Homo sapiens: one gene and its partner. The protein of the gene in region 1 interacts with the protein of each later gene in a biochemical or structural test. Each region holds a gene or a part of one and is shown on either strand. Other genes may lie near its edges.

Region 1 (3,823 bases):
TGATTCTGCCCAACTGTAGGCTAACGCAAGTGTCCTAAGCGTGTTTAAGGTAGGCTAGGCTAACCTAAGCAATTGTGTTTAGTAGGTTAGATGAATTACATGCATTTTCATCTTAATAGTATTTATCAGGATGTAACTCCATTGTAAGATGAGGACAATTGTATATATATTTTAGTGATATTATTTTATTATTATTATTATTATTATTATTTTTGAGACAGGGTCTCACTTTGTCACCCAGGCTGGAGTGCGGTGGCATGATCTCAGCTCATTGCAGCCTCGACCTCCCAGGTTCAAGCAATCTTCCTGCCTCAGCCCCCACCAAGTAGCTGGGGTTATAGGTGTGCACTACCACACTGGGCTAATTTTTGTATTTTTTGTAGAGACGGGGTTTCGCCATGTTGCCCAGGCTGGTCTCGAACTCCTGGACTCAAGCAACCTGCCTGCCCCAGCCTCTCAAACTGCCGGGATTACAGGTGTGAGCCACTGTGCCTGGCCATAGCGATACTATTTTAATTTGACAAATCCTTTTTGTTGTTCGAAGTGTTTTTACCTAAGCTCTTAAATGTTATAATTCCATTATTATTGTTTTTTTATCACTCTCTGCTTCTTGAAACCCCTTCCAGAGGTTGTGAGATAATGACTATGAAAAGAGGCTTATGAACTGCAAAGTGCACAGAAACACAAGTATTCCTTCTGAATAGTTCCTTTTTTATCTCTGTATAGTTCTAAGACACTACATTTAGTCATGTAAGGTTTAAATTCCCAGCAAAGAATGCTGATTTATACTACACATAACACAAAGTTCTATTTCCAAATAAACAATGAACACCTTTATACATTTCAAAATACTTTCATTTCTATTATTCTATTTGATGAAATGGTTATGTTTTGACTGAAAGTCTAGTGAAAAATATTAAAAATCCAGACTTGAATCACTCTGACAGCTATACCACCGATCAAAAAAGTTTTTACTTCATGAACACTGTCATTAGTTTCACATGAATCAATAATTACCACATCATTCCCAGGGTTCGGCCACTATTTTTAAACTTTTAATTTTGAAATAACTATAGATTCACAGGAAGTTGGAAAAAACAAAAAAAAGTTCTGTATATTAAGGAGGTCTTCACTTCGTCCCTCCCCACAGTTAACATCTTACCCAATTATAGCATGATATGAAGACCGGGAAATTGATATTGATGGTCCACATAACTTTTTCAGATTTCATTTCTTTTATATGTACTCGTTTGGCAGAAGGGGGCTATATAGTTCTATGTAATTTTATTATATGTGTAGATTTGTGTAACCACCACGACATTCAGAACACAGAATTGTTCTATCACCACAGGAACCCTCATACTACCCCTTTATAGCTCCACCAACCCTTTCCTCCCACTTCTAACCTCTGGCAAACTCTGATCTCCACCGCCACAATTTTGTTATTTCGAGCATATGAATGGATTTGTACAGTACAGAGCCTTTTGAGATTGGCTTTTTTCACTCAGCTACTTCCCTTGATATCCATCCAAGCTGATGTACATATAGTTAGCTAGTTCATTTTTATTGCTGCATCACTTTCCATATTATGAACATATCAAAGTTTATTCACCTGCAAAAGGACCCATTTTTAGATGGCAGTTTCCTTCTATTTTATTACATAATGAGTCAGCCAAAGATTACAATTTCTCCAGATATGTTGCTTCAGATTTTAACAATAATTTATCCCCAAGGAAAAGGTTTTGCTACAGGAATACTGATCTCCCAATGATACCTCCTGCTCACGGAGATGCAGCACACATACTCTAAGACTCAACCCTGTCAAACATGTTTTCCAAGTGAAGATCTCCTTACCTACAGCTGTCTCTACTGGCTCCTTCAGAAAAAGACATCCACCAGGCCGAAGGATCCGGGCGATTTCAGCCAAAATCTCAGCACTGTGCAGAGTGGTGCTTCCTGGGACTAAACCTGACAAAATAATGTCAAAGCTGGATTCTTTGTGGGCAGCTGAAAAGAAGAGGACTCTAATTAGCAATCTCCTGAGCCTGGGATAATCTCCTGGTCCCTTCCAACCCCCAACAAAAGCTACAGACCTCACCCTGAGAGAATGGACACCACTCGATATCCATCCAAGAAGCTGGATGAATAGTAAGTGTTTTAAAAAAACATGGAATAGCTACCAAGAAAGAACATACTTATGGAAATCATCAACTACACTCCTAAGCTCTGCTGCAGGAAGTGAGGGACCCCAAACGGAGGGACCGGCTGAAGCCATGGCAAAAGTACACAAATTGTGAAGATTTCATGAACATTTATTAGTTCCCCAAATTAATACTTTTATAATTTCTTACGCCTGTCTTTACTGCAATCTCTGAATATAAATTGTGAAGATTTCATGGACATTTATCACTTCCTCAGTCAATACTCTTGTGATTTCCTATGCCTGTCTTTACTTTAATCTCTTAATCCCGTCATCTTCATAAGCTGAGGATGTATGTTGCCTCAGAACCCTGTGATGATTGCGTTAACTGCACAAATTGTTCATAAAGCATGTGCATTTAAACAATACGACATCTGCGCACCTTGAAAAAAGAACAGGATAACAGCGATGTTCAGGGAACAAGGGAGATAACCATCAGGTCTGACTGCCTGAGAGCCAGGCGGAACAGAGCCATATTTCTCTTCTTACAAAAGTGAATAGGAGAAATATCACTGAATTCTTTTTCTCAGCAAGGAACAGCCCTGAGAAAGAGAATGCGTTCCTAGGGGGAGGTCTCTAAAATGGCCACTCTGGGATGTCTGTCTTATATGGTTGCAGATAAGGGATGAAATAAGCCCTGGTCTCCCGTAGCACTCCCAGGCCTGTTAGGACGAGGAAATTCCCACCCAGTAAATTTTAGTCAGACCAGCTGTCTGCTTTCAAACCCTGTCTCCTGATAAGATGTTATCTATGACAATGCGTGCCCGAAACTTTATTAGCAATTTTAATTTCGCCCCAGTCCTGTGATCTCGCTCTGCCCCCGTTTGCCTTATTTTATTGCCTTGTGAAGCATGTGATCTCTGTGACCCACACCCTATTCGTACACTCCCTCCCCTTTGAAAATCACTAATAAAAACTTGCTGGTTTTGCGGCTTGAGGGGCATCACGGAACCCGCCGACATGTGATGTCTCCCCCGGACACCCAGCTTTAAAATTTCTCTCTTTTGTACTCTTTCCCTTTATTTCTCAGACCAGCCGACACTTAGGGAAAATAGAAAAGAACCTACGTTGAATTATTGGGGGTGGTTCCTCCGATATATCTCAACTGAAAAACAACAGGGTGACCAGCCACCACTATCACATGCCACCCTAAATGAAAACTCAGATATCAAGGAACCACAGAAATGCAACACTCCCATGGAAACCCCTCCAGCCTCATAAAGACAACGTGGGTGGGTACTTACATTGCAACAGCTGCTTGATGTTTTCCACAGACACGCGGCCCTCATTGCCGGTTAACGCTTGAAGCTTATCCACCAGACCTTTCAGAGCCTCCACTGGGGATGACTTATCCCAGACCACTGCCACAAACTGGCCAGCAGAGATCCCAAAATCTGCCATTCTTGCAGTGCAGTACTGACAGACCTAAAAACTGCTGGCCAAAAGGGAATCAAGACTGGGCAGAGACAAAGTGCAATTTAATCTGTGAGATATCATAAAATATGATTAGAATCCCAACCTAACTTGTAACCGCCCACTAGGGAATGCTGACAACATTAGAAACTCTACTGTATATGCTAAAGAGTCTGAATACATGAACCCCATTATCTCAAGTCTTCATAA
Region 2 (3,823 bases), on another chromosome or scaffold:
TCCTGATAATTCATTTCTAAGACTCTCAACACATATTTTGGCCCTGCTGCCTAAACCAGTACTAAGTCCTGAATAATATCTTTAACGTGCTAAACCAATTGAGTTAATCCACAGTCAAAACTACAGCTTTCCTAGCACTCATCCACTCAAGAGAGACAGCAGGAATGTAGGAGTACACATAACCAGAGTGAAAAACAAAAGAGGCAAGGAAGAGACTGACTGGCTTCCATCTTCCTCTACATTCTGAACAGGTTAGAAAGACTTTCACCTTCTCCCGGAGGTCTGCCTTCATCTAAACCAAGATAGCAACTTCCTGTTCCCTGGTCCCTAGCAGCATTTACATACCCCTTCCTGAATTATTTTCTACAGCACACCTAGCTTTTCAATGACATAATTTGTGTTACTATTTTAAATGCCTTAAAACCACAGTTACCCACAGGGAACTAATTTGTCTGCCTGTGCTCTCCAAAACTCCAGCCCACAGCCACCTTGACATTTGGTAGTCATGCCTCACACCCGAGGATGATCAAGGAAAAGTGTACATTTGGCCAGGCGTGGTGGCTCACGCCTAATCACAGTACTTTGGGAGGCCAAGGTGAGCAGATCACGAGGTCAAGAGACCAAGACTATCCTGGCTAAGATGGTGAAACCCCATCTCTACTAAAAATACAAAAAATTAGCTGGGTGTGGTGGCATGTGCCTGTAGTCCCAGCTACTCGGGAGGCTTAGGCAGGAAAATCGCTTAAACCGGGGAGGCAGAGGTTGCAGTGAGCTGGAGCTGCACTCCAGCCTGGGCGACAGAACAAGACTCTGTCTCAAAAAAAAAAAAAATGCAAAATTATTTTAAGATTTTTAAGAATGATGTGCAAAAATAACAGATCCCACACCAATTATACATATTTGGAATTCCATACCACTCCATCTTTATATTAGTTAATAAAATCTAATTTTTTATTTTATTTATTTATTTATTTAGAGACAGCGTCTCGCTCTGTCACCCAGGCTGGAGTGCAGTGGCACAATCTCGGCTCACTGCAATCTCTGCCTCCCGGGTTCAAAAGATTCTCCTGCCTCAGCCTCCCACATAGCTGGGATTATAGGCACCCGCCACCACGCCCAGCTAATTTTTGTATTTTAGTAGAGACAGGGTTTCACTATGTTGGCTGGGCTGGTCTCAAACTACTGAACTCAGGTGATCTGCCCGCCTCAGCCTCCCAAAGTGCTGGGATTACAGGTGTGAGCTACCGCACCCAGCCCTAATCTAACCCATAAATCAGAATTAAATTCACAAAAGACATGACATTGAAATATAAATACCTTCACAAATGAAACTTGAGGGAGTTCTTTAGCTAACTCTGCCATAACTTCGTTCATCTGTGCACACTGTGGAGCCCATGGTGCCCAGAAATGGACCACAAGGAGGGACCTGTAAATCAATTAAATGCATTTATTTAAAATTATACCAATTTTGGAAATACACAAATACTGATATAAATTACCAAAAAGAAAAAAAAGAAAGCTTTAAAAGAACCGTCTGAAGTTTTTCATATTGCTAGAATTTTGTTGTATACAACACTGGAACATAAAAGCACTCTGCAAGGTCTTGAGACTCTTTCAGATAAATTTTCAATTCAATGATATTTCAAGTGAAGCCCATTTGAAGTAGATCTGAATATTCATCCACCTCAATTAAAAGTCATGTAAATCACTGTTGGTGGGAGTGTAAATTAGTTCAACCATTGTGGAAGACAGTGTGGCAATTCCTCAAGGATCTAGAACCAGAAATACCATTTGACCCAGCAATCCCATTACTGGGTATATACCCAAAAGATTATAAATCATTCTACTATAAAGACACATGCACACATTATGTTATTGCAGCACTATTTACAATATCAAAGACTTGGAACCAACCCAAATGCCTGTCAATGACAGACTGGATAAAGGAAATGTGGCACATATATACCATGGAATACTATGCAGTCATAAAAAGGAATGAGTTCATGTCCTTTGCAGGGACATGGATGAAGCTGGAAGCCACCATTCTCAGTAAACTAACACAGGAACAGAAAAACAAACATTGCATGTTCTCATTCATAAGTGGGAGGTGAACAATGAAACCACACGGACACAGGGAGGGGAACATCACATACCAGGGCCTGTCAGGGGGTGGGGGGCAAGGGGAGAGAAAGCATTAGGACAAATACCTAATGCATGCAGGGCTTAAAACCTAGATGATGGGTTGATAGGTGCAGCAAACCACCATGGCACATGCATACCTATGTAAGAAACCTGCACATTCTGCATATGTATCCCAGAACTTAAAGTAAACGAAAAAAAAAAAAAAAAAGCCAGGCAAATCAACCATATTTTCAGACCCCTGGGCAAAGTGGAAACTGAATTTCTGTATTAATGGCACAATGTTTGTGAAAAATGGTTGTAGACACATTACTAATAATATCATTATTTACTTTTTAAATGTGGTATAGTGATGGAGAGACATAACCGTGACCATAGAAACAGCAGTAAGTGTTGAAAATGAAGGCATGCCAGTGCAAAACGAGGAAAAGAATAGAACTGCTTTTCACAAAGACTTTTTTTTATACTTTTTAATATTATGCTACAAAAGATTTTTCTAGACCCAGAGCAGTGGCTCACACCTGTAATCCCAGCACTTTGGGAGGCCGAGGCAGGCAGATCACTTGAGGTCGGCAGTTCGAGACCAGCCTGGCTAATGTGGTGAAACCCCAACTCTACTAAAAGCACAAAAAATTAGCCGGGTGTGTTGGTGCATGCCTGTAATCCCAGCTACTCAGGAGGCTGAGGCAGAAGAATTGTTTGAACCCAGAAGGCAGAGGTTACAGTGAGCTGAGATCACACCACTGCACTGCAGCCTGGATGGCAGAGCAAGACTCTGCCTCAAAAAAAAAAAAAAGATTTTTCTAGGCCAGGCAAGGTGGCTCATGCCTGTACTCAGCATTCTGGCAGACTAAGGTGGAAGGATTACTTGAGCCCAGGGGGTCGAGGCTGTAGTGAGCCATGATCATACCACTACACTCCAGTGTGGGCAACAGAGCAAGACCCATTTAAAAAAAAAAAATTCTAAACATTTATAGTATGAACACACAGAATATATTAATAACTCAGTATCTATTTTAGTTAGTTTTCACACAAAATTATCTTGGCAAAGATATCTATGGTCATATCCAACTAAAAAATCCTTCAGTTTTATGGAATTCTGTTCAAATATAATACCACCTCCCAAAAAAATCTGAAAAATCACGAACAGAAATATGTTCCATGGCAAAAAGAACCAAGGACAACTAACCTATGGGTAAGGAAAGGAATAACAAACTGTAAAAACTGATCAAATAATACCAGCGAGAAGAGAATAAGCCTACAATAAAGTGTCAGGAAAGCAGAAGCAAAGAGCAGCATGAGGATTTCGAAGGTAGAAGGGGCAGGATTTGGTGACAGATAAGGCAGTCTACAGCTGGCTCCAAGTTCTGGCTTAGAGACTGATGGCTAGTGGTGGCACTATGCCTCAAATCATAGTGCAGAAGCTGCCAACCTGAGGAAAGGAAGTTTAATGGGTTGTTAGTATGATGTCTAGAGCTCAGGGAAGAAGTCTGCACCTGATATACAGATTTGGGAATCAAGAAAGGAACAGTGCCAGCACCACACCGCAAAGGGTTACAGAGGGACACAGAGGAGACCCGAGGTCAGCGCCTCAGGGGGCTTATCAACATTAAGTTAGGACAGATGGAGGAGAAGGAACTTATGTAGTAAAGCAGAGAAGGGGTCCTAGGCGGTACTGGAAGAT

The links.
Region 2: the proteins of CIAPIN1 (region 1) and GLRX3 form a complex in vitro, tested with the Homo sapiens proteins (one study listed by IntAct).

The regions. Positions count from the first base shown.
Region 1 is NC_000016.10:57,437,328-57,441,150, forward strand, and holds part of CIAPIN1 (anamorsin), read right to left. Parts: intron 3,657-3,823; 5' UTR 3,602-3,656; coding exon 3,445-3,601; intron 2,008-3,444; coding exon 1,855-2,007; intron 1-1,854. UniProt on the Homo sapiens protein: Component of the cytosolic iron-sulfur (Fe-S) protein assembly (CIA) machinery required for the maturation of extramitochondrial Fe-S proteins.
Region 2 is NC_000010.11:130,142,814-130,146,636, reverse strand, and holds part of GLRX3 (glutaredoxin-3), read right to left. Parts: intron 1,427-3,823; coding exon 1,318-1,426; intron 1-1,317. UniProt on the Homo sapiens protein: Together with BOLA2, acts as a cytosolic iron-sulfur (Fe-S) cluster assembly factor that facilitates [2Fe-2S] cluster insertion into a subset of cytosolic proteins.